Homo sapiens: one gene and its partners. The protein of the gene in region 1 purifies or fractionates together with the protein of each later gene. This does not show direct contact. Each region holds a gene or a part of one and is shown in the gene's direction. Other genes may lie near its edges. The genes, in order: IRF8, MYH14 and IRF2.

Region 1 (3,500 bases):
AGGCCTGTCTCTGTGACGTTGGCCGGATAGATCTTTGGCTGTTGGATGAAGTCAACCTCGGTCAGGTAGAGCCATCTTAGGGATTTTCCGGTTATGTAGACACTTGTTTCTTTCAACTGTTCAAAGAAAACCTTTCAACAATTTAGGAGTTAAGAAAGAAATTTATGAGTTTGGTTTCTTCCGTAATAAGTGGATGGTAAAAGGGGCCACTTATACCAGAAAATCCCTCATTGTCTGCAGGCATCATCCTGAGGCCGGCCTCATGGTATAGATCACAGAAGAGAAATTGAAAAAACATTGAGCTCATTTTGTACCGACCCTGAGTACACTGATGAGGCCCTGATAGCAACTCATTTAATTTTTAAAAAGTACTTTACCTTCTTGACATGACGACAAGGGGGGAAAATCTAGTTAAGTGAGGATTATGATTCATGGTTATTCCAGGCATCGTAACAGTCCTGAATGAGTTAAAGCTCACTTAGTAGCACAGATATTTCTCATTCAGCAGGCCTTGAAGGGAAAAATAGCATTTAATTAAAAAAATGCAACATGAAACAATCATATTAAATTAGGAAGACCTCCTGGTCTTAGTTCAGTGCTGTCAGCCTGAGTTGTGCGTCAACAGGAGAAATAAGTTATGGTGGAGGCTGAATGAGCCATAGTGACTGTTGCTGGCGGCAGGGGTGGGGGGGCCCTGAAATCACTCTCATGTCTAGTTTTTGCTCTAGCTCAAGAAGGATCTCGAGAGATCATCAAGCTAAGTTGACCTTTTAATGCTGGCCAGAGAGGCTGGGAGAGGGCCAGGTGCCTGCTGTGTCACAGAGTTCAGGGCAGGCGGCAAGCCAGGTACCCGATGGTGGCCCTGGATGCTTCCTGGCCGTGGGCCCTGCTGTGATGGATGATGTGGCCTGGACTTGCTCGTGGGGTGAGTGTGAGCTTGGCGTGAACGAGTGAGTATGGCAGTGCCTTGCAGGCACCGCGGTTGCGTATGTGTACCAGCGGATCACAACGTTGCCATGAAATCTGTGCATTTCAAGGCCCGTTTGGGATGTGGGTTAACTCAGTGGTTCTCAGGTGGGGGAGGTATCATGATTTACCCTCCAGGGAATACTTGGCCATGTTTGGAGACCTTTTTTGGTTGTCACAGCTAGGGGAGGGGTGCTATTGGCATCTGGTGGGTCAAGGCTAGGGATGCCGCTGAATATTCTACAATCCACAGGACCACCCCGCCACAAAGAAGGGTCCCAGCTGATATGTCAGGCTTGCCACGGTGGGGAAACCCTGATTTAAAGTAATAAAAATTTGAAACTACAGTTGATTTAGTACATGGTTTGCTGGTTTATTTCTTTAAAAATAAACAACAGCAACAAAACCCAAATTAATGCCCGGTCAGTGATGCAGTCAATGAAGAGAGCATTAAAGACCGTGTGCTTTAAGAAATAGTTTTAGAGGGGAGTTTTACATCAATGTCACATGAGGAAACTACCACTTATGCTCACTAATGGGAATGTTCTTCCAGTCTCTTTACCCCAGGTAGAGGTGCAACATTTTGCATCAACAAAGTAGGCAGCATTGGCCTTGAACAGTAAGCATTCTTGTCTTTTTTGAGAGGAAAAACAGTCTGGGCTATTTTAAAGGAGCTGTGACTCATGGGGGCATGATGGAGTTTCTGGAAGTGTGGTCTCCTGGGTAGCTAAATCCAAATCCCTGGAATACTGGCTAAAGACAGCTACCTGGGCCGGGCGCGGTGGCTCACGCCTGTAAGCCCAGCACTTTGGGAGGCCGAGGCAGGCGGATCACGAGGTCAAGAGATCAAGACCATCCTGGCCAACATGGTGAAACCTCGTCTGTACTAAAAATACAAAAATTAGCTGGGTATGGTGGTGCACACCTGTAGTCCCAGCTACTTGGGAGGCTGAGGTAGGAGGATTCGCTTGAACCTGGTAGGTGGAGGTTGCAGTGAGCCAGATTGCGCCACTGCATTCCAGACTGGTGACAGAGTGAGACTCCGTCTCAAAAAAATAAAAAAACTAAAATAAATAAAAATAAAAAATAAAAAAAGACAGCTACCGAGACCCAACCTCCCTTCCCCAGTGAGAATCTTGAGGGGCAAGGCCCAGGAATCTGCATTTTCACAAGCTTCCCAGGGGCAGGGGGTTGGTATATGCATTAAGCCTGAGAACACTTGCTGTGGTGGGGAAACTGTTGGGTTGGAAGTGGGTACAGCTGGCATTTAATCCCAGACTGGGTGGCCTTGGGAAAGTTACTTACCTCTTGGAATTGCATTTTCCTGAAGTGGGTACAGCTGGCATTTAATCCCAGACTGGGTGGCCTTGGGAAAGTTACTTACCTCTTGGAATTGCATTTTCCTGAAGTGGGTACAGCTGGCATTTAATCCCAGACTGGGTGACCTTGCGAAAGTTACTTACCTCTTGGAATTGCATTTTCCTGAATGGGATCGGGATGTCCCTACAGATCTCCTATCATTTTAGGCTGGAGGACACTGCCTGATTTTTCCTGAAACCGAAGATAATTCTCATCTGACTGTGGTTACCTCCTAGTTGGTGTGTCTGTATTCCAATTTTGCAAGCTTAAAATCTGTCCATTCACCTGTCTTATTTTTTTAAAATCTGTACTGCCCCATTCTACATTATGACTTTAAGATTTCAGCTTTGAATTTCTGGTCCTAGTTCAGATCCTAAGGTTTGGAAAAGTCAGAAAACAGATCTATTAAAAAAAACACACACACATTAAAGGGAAAGTACTTCATTACATTTTAAACAGCACCTGGGGGGAAAAGTCTAGAATAAATGCAAAAATGCAAAACAAAATTTCTATTAAAAGTAACAGGGCGATGGATGACCATTTTGACTTTTTGCAAATGTTCCCTTTTCATGCTAAATTTTAGGGGTTGATCTGAAAAAGCAACAACTTGTTCTTTGTTTTGAACGCTCTGGTGAAACCATATGCAACTTCCTCTTTGTGCTGTGTAAACCTCAGGTGTCTCCAGCTCTTCAGCCAGGCAAGGGCTTGGCTAAAAGGTGCACTCCAGGGTTGGAGGAGCCTTCAGCCTGGGTTCGACTTCTGACTCAGCTGTATGAACCTGGGGGACCCCCTCCCTGGCTTGGGTCTTTCCACATCTGGTCCCCAGATGTGAAAAGACTCAAGACATCTGATTGGAGTCTCTTTGGGTCCTGAAATTGAATGAGAGTTGATGGCCAACAAAGATTCATGGGAAGGGAAGGATGTGTGGGGTCCTGGTCATGGTGACGGATATTTGTGATTGGAGTCGGCCATGAATTTAATGTGCTTCTGTTTCTTTCTTCAGGCCTGGGCAGTTTTTAAAGGGAAGTTTAAAGAAGGGGACAAAGCTGAACCAGCCACTTGGAAGACGAGGTTACGCTGTGCTTTGAATAAGAGCCCAGATTTTGAGGAAGTGACGGACCGGTCCCAACTGGACATTTCCGAGCCATACAAAGTTTACCGAATTGTTCCTGAGG
Region 2 (3,726 bases), on another chromosome or scaffold:
TGTAATCCCAGCTACTTGGGAGGCTGAGGCAGGAGAATCACTTGAACCCTGGATGCCGAGGTTGCAGTGAGCTGAGATCACGCCATTGCACTCCAGCCTGGGCAACAAGCGAGACTCCGTCTCAAAAAAAAAAAAAAAAAAAAAAAAAAAAAAAAGAACTGACCCTCTGAGCCTGGTTCACAGCCTAGCTTATTAAAGAATGAATGAGTGCCTAGAGAGGTGAATGAATGAAATGAGTAAGCTGGGTCTGTTAACCCACTTTGCAGAAGTATGGCAAGAGGTCTGGTAAAGGAAGGCAGAGGTGGCTGCCTGGGGAATTTGGGGTAGGGAAGGGAGGCCCGGGGGACGGAGCCCCATCTGACCCCCACCCTCTTTCTTTGCCCCTGCAGACCATGGCAGCCGTGACCATGTCGGTGCCCGGGCGGAAGGCGCCCCCCAGGCCGGGCCCAGTGCCCGAGGCGGCCCAGCCGTTCCTGTTCACGCCCCGCGGGCCCAGCGCGGGTGGCGGGCCTGGCTCGGGCACCTCCCCGCAGGTGGAGTGGACGGCCCGGCGTCTCGTGTGGGTGCCTTCGGAGCTTCACGGGTTCGAGGCGGCGGCGCTGCGGGACGAAGGCGAGGAGGAGGCGGAGGTGGAGCTGGCGGAGAGCGGGAGGCGGCTGCGACTGCCGCGGGACCAGATCCAGCGCATGAACCCGCCCAAGTTCAGCAAGGCCGAGGACATGGCCGAGCTGACCTGCCTCAACGAGGCCTCGGTCCTGCACAACCTCCGGGAGCGGTACTACTCCGGCCTCATCTACGTGAGTGGGCTCCTGCTGGGGGGCGCGTGCGGCGGAGTTGCTGCCGGTTGGGGAACCAGGTCCACCACCCGGCTCCCCTGCATTAACTTGAGGCTGTTTATCATCTGTATCCCATGTCCCGTGACTGTTCCTACACTTACATGGTTGCCAAATTATGAATTGTTGGATTACTAGGACAGCCTCGGAACCTACTGGGGACATTGCATGATACATATGGTAGATAAACTGTATTATTTTCCTAAAGTATAAAACGTTCCAATTTCTCAGATATAGCTCATCCCGAGTTTTAAGGAACGGAAACAGATGTGTGACAATCATTAATGTGAATCACTGAGTATAGAAATGTGTTGCTTGAGGTTCAAGACCAGCCTGGGCAACAAAACGAGACCCTATCTCTTAAAAAAAGATAAATTAGCCAGGTGTGGTGGTGGCCCGTGCCTTTAGTCTCACCTTCTAGGAAGACTGAGGCAGGAGGATCACTTGAGCCCGGGAGGTCAAGGCTGCAGTGAGCTATGATGATACCACTGCACTCCAGCCTGGGTGACAGCACAAGACCCTGTCTCAAAAAAAGACAAAAAGCAAAAACCTTATGCTAGGCTCTGTGCTAAATGCCTATCTATTAATTCATTCAATCTCACCATAGGAAAGATAGAGTCTATTATTATTACCATTTTACCTAAGAGGCAAATGAGGCCCAGAGAGAGTTAATAACAATAAAAATGAACATTTATTAAACATTTACCAACCATTCTTCCAAGCTTTCTAAAATACATTGCCTCTGTACATTTTCAGAATTATAAAGCATCTGATCCTCATTTTACAGGTAAGAAAACTGAGGCACAGAGAGTTCAAGGTCACACAATTAGACCTGACAGAGCCAGGTAGTCTGTCTTCTCACTTTGCTGTGGTGCCTCTTAAGATTGAGATGGGGCTGGGAATGGTGGTTCATGCCTGTAATCTCAGTACTTTGAGAGGCTGAGGTGGGTGGATTGCTTGAGCCCAGGAGTTCGGGACCATCCTGGGCATGGCAAAACCCCATCCCTGCAAAAAAAAAAAAAATACAATAAATTAGCTGGGCATGGTGGCACACTCTTGTAGTCCCAGTTACTTGGGAGGCTGAGGTGGGAGAATCACCTGAGCCCTGAAGGTGGAGGCTGCAGTGAGCTGTGATGGCGCTACTGTACTCCAGCCTGGGTAACAAATCAAGACCCTGTCTCAAACAAAACGAAACAATACAAAAACCCATTGAGAAGAGATTGATGATACTTAGGTTGACTATGGTAGTCTTCCCACGTCTGTGCTAAGCATTGGAGGTTCGTTGCATTTTTAAAACTCTTTACAGCAAACGGATGGGGTAGAGCAGTGGTTCTTAACCCCACCTCTATGGTAGAATCATTTGGGGAATTCTTAGAAAATACCAGTGACGGAGCCCCACCCCAGAACTTTCAGTCGAGCTCTCTGGGGCTGTGACATGAACATTGGTATTTTTAATAAGCTTCCAAGGAGGTTCTAATGGGCAGCCAAGGGGTTATTAATTTCATTGAACAAAAGAGCAAACAGGATTAGAGAGATTGACAAGGAATATGGACAATCATAATGAAAAATAATAATAAGAGGAGGCTAGCAAATATTTAATCGAGCACTCGTGATGTGCCAAGCACTGTTCTAAGTGTGGCGTGTGAGTTATCAGCTTCCCTCTGGGCCAGGGACTGCTGATATCACCTGATGTTCAGGATGTTAAGTGACCCACAGCCATGAAGGAATCACGCCAGGATTTGAACCCAGGCAGCTGGTTCCAGAGTCATGCTCCAAACTCTAGCTTAGACTGGTGGGGTCTCACAGCTTTGCTCCAACATCCACCCCTCTGAGGTTCACAAAGCGGAAGATTAGAATATTTTTGTGAAGTCCCACTCCTACTTGGAGATCGAGGCTCTGAGATAAGCAGTGGCTGGCTCAGGGTCCCTCAGCTTGTGGTGGCAGGTGTGGAATTTGAATCGAGGGCTGTCGGACCCTGCATGGGGTTGGTGTCTTCTCCAGTCTGCACTGGCCCTTTCCAAATCCTCAAACACCTTTACTAGCCCTGGAAAAGAGGCCTCTACATGATCCACTCCCCCACATCTCACCCAAGGCCACAGACATCAGGATGACATCCAAAACATGGATCCACTAGTTGCCTTTTATTCATTTATATATATTTTTTGAGACAGGGTCTCACTCTGTTGCCCAGGCTGCAGTGCAGCAGCATGATCTTGGCTTACTGCAGCCTTCACCTCCTGGGATCAAGCAACTCTCTTGCCTCAGCCTCCTGAGTAGCTGGGACTACAGGCGCCTGCCACCAGGCCCAGCTAATTTTTGTATTTTTAGTAGAGTTGGGGTTTCACCATGTTTGTCAGAGCTCGAACCTCTGAGCTCAAGTGATCTGCCCAACTCAGCCTCTCAAAGTGCTGGGATTACAGGGGTGAGCCACTGCATCCGGCCACTCTTTGCCTTTTAATAAATACTCTGAGCGCTCCCAGCAACCTTGTAAGGTATCTGCTGTCATCCCCGCTCTGCAGGTGGGGAAGCTGAGCCTCAGACTAGGGGGCAGGATTTGAACATAAGCCCCACAACTAGGAACCAGCTAAGCTAGAACTTGAAACCAGGTCACTGTGACTGCAGACCCCAGGTCCTAGCCATTGCACTAGGAAGATTATTCAGAAAGTTCAGGAGAAAAAGTGGTAGGGCCTGAGCTAAGGTGGTGGCCAGGGAGCCAGACTTTTGGGGCCTAAGAAATGAATGTGAGAGAGAAGATTCTAGAATTCCAGACAGGAAGCACATTGGGCCTTAATAAAGATCATTAGCACTTAGTGAGTACCTGCTTTCTCTGCTGGGTGCTGTTCTAAATTTCTTTCCAATATGATCTTATTGACCCCCTCCCCATCCACATAAG
Region 3 (3,726 bases), on another chromosome or scaffold:
GAAGAAAACCACAGTAGAATAATGGGGTGGGGGAGGATGGGTAAGAGGGGCTGGAGAGTAGACTCGAGAAGAAAACATCATCTGAAGGACTCACTGGCTATAATGAGAGAGTGGAGATCGCCTGCTGACCAGCAGCCATCAGTAAAGGCTTTGAATCCTTCGGGAAACCACACCAGGCTTGCATTTTGTTGGGCAGAGCAAAGACACAATCGCTTTGAGATTAAGAGGATTCCGATTTGAAAATAATTTACTCCTGGTGAAAGTAATTGAGAATATGATCAATAGAAAGAAATTCAAATCAAACTTGCTGAACAAGAGCCTTCCAGAAAGTGTAGCAGAATGTCAGAGTGCAAAAAGCCTTTCAGGTGAAAATGCATCCTCTCCCTTCCCGCAGTGTTCCTGCTTAGACAATATGTATATCCTCAGCGAGGCGTTAAAAACTGGACTGGATAGAGAGTGAACCTACAACCAGTGTCACCCTAGAACTGGAAGAGCTTTTGAGATCATCTAATCCAAATCCTCCCCTTCCCTCCCACCCTAGATGCTTTCAGGAAAACTGAGACCAGAAAGGTTAAGTGAATTACTCATGTGCCTGTTGGTACTGTACGAACACCTTCAGCTTCTTCATTTGTTTGGAGTTGCTGGAGAAGCAACTCCAGACTTCTTTATTCCATTGTATTCGAAGTAAGTAATAAACAAAAAGCAAAAACAAATTCAAACTAATCAAAAGGGAAAATGAAATGACAACGTATGTTGATAGTTCGATAGTAACACTGATCTGGAGGCCCAGCTGCAGTCAGCTCCCTTGTGTAAGAAGTCAGCGTGGAAGTGGCAATGGTGGTCAAACCAAGGAAACAGAGGACACGGGGCGCAGTGCATCCAACAAAGCACTTGGAGCCACCGATTCTGGGGTCACAGAGAGAACTGCTCCCCTCAGGGGGAGGTTCAGGGTTCTCTGCTCCTAAGCTAAGGTACTGAAGGCCCCTTTTTGAAACTGTCAGTGTCCTAATAGGGCGCATCTTCCTGACGACTTCAGATGCTGTGGAACTTAATCTAGACACGACGCTCTTTAACTCGCATTTGTGTCAGCTGAAAACATAAGTTCGGAGCATGTGTATCTTTTCTTATCTGCAGCTATTTCCCCGAAGCTGAAAACTGGGTACTTAAAGGAAGTTAGCATCCCGGTCACATTCATGGGCGGTGCAAGGTCTTACCCGGGAGCCTTACCCCAGGATCTGACTTCCAGCCCCTCCTGCACCTGCGACTGGGGCTGTGCTGGAATCCCAGCCCCCAAAGCATGCTTGGTTGCGTATCTTTGTTTGTATTTGGAGGGGAAAGGAAAAGAAGACAGTGATATTTATGGAGAGTCATTAGGAGTGAAGAGCATCTGAACCCGTATGAAAGGAAGAGAAAGCTTGGCTTTGGAGCACAAAGAAAGCTAAGCATAAAATGGAAAGCGGATCTTGAAATGTTGTCAGAGACCAGAACACCAGGGAAGCAGGGCTGCTGTGTGCAGTGCACAGGCCCTGGAATCAGAAGTACAGTTTTGTTTTCTCTCCTCTGTGCTGTCTCAGTTGGCAACTTTGGCAAGTTTCTCAACATCTCTGTTCCTCATTTTTCTTCTTGGGAGTGGCTGTTCCGATTCCTGCCTCCTCAGGATACTGAGCCAGCACGAGGGTTCTCTGAGGAGGGGAATTTTCTTTTTCTGTTGGTTTTCATGTGTTTCTGCGTGGAAACAATTCTTGTGCTCGGCAACGTCAGCTCATCTTCATAGCTGGGATCGTCGTCAGCTGAGGCTGAGGGCTTCTCTGGGTCTCTGTGGCTCCCAGCACGGGGTGTTTTGGGGAAACATGCCCAGTCCGAGGAGTGGAGAGATCTGTCTTCTGCATGCTCATGGCCAGCCCACCGCGATCACTCAGGTTTGTGTGAAGTTACTGGAGAACAGTGGCTGAGAAACAGGCCCAGAGACTCCAGGCTGGGACCAGTGGAGTCCACATTCTTACTTTCCTTGTTTAAGGAATGCACCTGTGGCACAGTTTGTCCATTTGTTCTTTTGCCTTTAATTGATAGAGAGCCTGGTCTGGGGCTAATGCTCTCAGTGGAAGAAAGGGCTCTGTCTGGGCTGGAGCCATCTCATCCCAGCTCTGCCACCAGGAAGATGTGAGACAGAGGCCAGCCCCTCAGCAGGGACCGGGTGGAAAGCTGGAAGGCACTGGAGCATAAGAGCTCTTCTGCGTAACGGGGGATGAGAGCAGCTGCTTGCTGACGTGGGACCCCTGTGAGACCTGCATGCAAAGCCTCTGACATGGCACTGACCCATAGGGCTCCCTAAATGTTTGCTTCTTTTAGAACACGAGCTTCACTTTTGGATTTTCTTGTGTTGTGAAATATACGTCACCTAAAATTTACCATACTTTTGGGTATGGGGTTATTAAATTCAGCATTGGAACTAAATAGGAGGAAAGGCAGTTAAAGGTTGCCATCAGGAAGAGAAGCTATTGCAGTTACTCTTTAGGCCTTGTCTGTAAAACGAATGGCTCAGGCTAAGTGATCTCTAAATGCCTAAATATTGCACAGGCTCTGCCCTCTGTGATTGCATTTCTCAATGGTTATGGACACTGGAATAATCGCACACCATTGATATTTTATTTTACAAAATCAAAATGTTTTTACGTTTAAAAAGCTTTTTATAAGCATAGGTCATGTGTAATCACTAGACTTCGATTCCATTAATCCAGCCTGTTGTGCAAACCCAGTGTTAAGCAGTGCTGATGTATGGAGTGTGTGCTGTGTGCCAGGCCCTTGCTAGGCCTTTCCCATGTACCCTCTCACTCACTCTCCATGTAATCCTCTTAGATGGTGGCAGTGCCCTCATTTTACAGAGGAGAAAACTGCAGCTCAGTAAAGGTGAGAAACTTGCCCAGTGTCTCACAGCTGGCAGGCCAAATGGGGATGGCAACTGATTGGCTGCCATAGCCATGCAGCCACAAACTTAGTGGCTTGAAGCGACACACATTTGGATCTTACAGTTTCTTTGAGTCACGAATCCAGGCGTGGCTTAGCTGGGTCCTCTGCTGCAGAGTCTTGCAAACCTGCCATGGAGGTGTTGGCTACAGCTGCTGTCTCATCTGAGGCTCAACTGGGGAAGGGTCCATTTCCAAGCTCATGTGGTTTTGGCAAAATTAAGTTTCTTGCAGGTTGTTGGACTAAGGGCCTCAGTCTCTTGCTGGCTGTTGGCTGGAAGCAGTCCTTAGTTCTTTGCCATAGGAGCCTTCCCAACATGGTTGCTTGCTTTATCAAGGCCAGCAAGGCAGAGTGTTTCCTCTCCCAGCAGGTTTCTGAGTTATGTAACATGATCATGGACACAGGATCACATCCATTTCATCCCCTTTGCTGTATCTTATTTGTTAGAAGCAGACACATTCCATCCACACTCAAGGGAGGCAATCCCAAAGAAAGTGAATCCAAGGAGGTGAGGATCATGGGGAGCACCCCAGATCTGTCCACCTACAGTAACCCACATGGCAGATGCAACTCTAGAAATCCAGGATCTAAGTCCTAAAGGGGTGAGAGGTAAAGGAAGGATCTGAGTGGGATGGGGATAATGTAGGAAGACCTTTTGGAAACGGTCAACTCTGCACTGGGAATTAAATGAATTGGTTGGCATGGATTGAAAGACAGGACCCATGTGGGCATTGTGGACAGAGCTGCAGTGAGGAGGGCCCC

What was found.
Region 2: the proteins of IRF8 (region 1) and MYH14 purify together in Homo sapiens (affinity purification with mass spectrometry; one large-scale study listed by BioGRID and IntAct). This does not show direct contact.
Region 3: the proteins of IRF8 (region 1) and IRF2 purify together in Homo sapiens (affinity purification with western blotting, with the first as the bait; one study listed by BioGRID). This does not show direct contact.

What each region holds. Positions count from the first base shown.
Region 1 is NC_000016.10:85,905,662-85,909,161, forward strand, and holds part of IRF8 (interferon regulatory factor 8), read left to right. Parts: intron 1-3,328; coding exon 3,329-3,500. UniProt on the Homo sapiens protein: Transcription factor that specifically binds to the upstream regulatory region of type I interferon (IFN) and IFN-inducible MHC class I genes (the interferon consensus sequence (ICS)). Can both act as a transcriptional activator or repressor.
Region 2 is NC_000019.10:50,209,974-50,213,699, forward strand, and holds part of MYH14 (myosin-14), read left to right. Parts: intron 1-389; 5' UTR 390-392; coding exon 393-797; intron 798-3,726. UniProt on the Homo sapiens protein: Cellular myosin that appears to play a role in cytokinesis, cell shape, and specialized functions such as secretion and capping.
Region 3 is NC_000004.12:184,391,023-184,394,748, reverse strand, and holds part of IRF2 (interferon regulatory factor 2), read left to right. Parts: intron 1-3,726. UniProt on the Homo sapiens protein: Specifically binds to the upstream regulatory region of type I IFN and IFN-inducible MHC class I genes (the interferon consensus sequence (ICS)) and represses those genes. Also acts as an activator for several genes including H4 and IL7.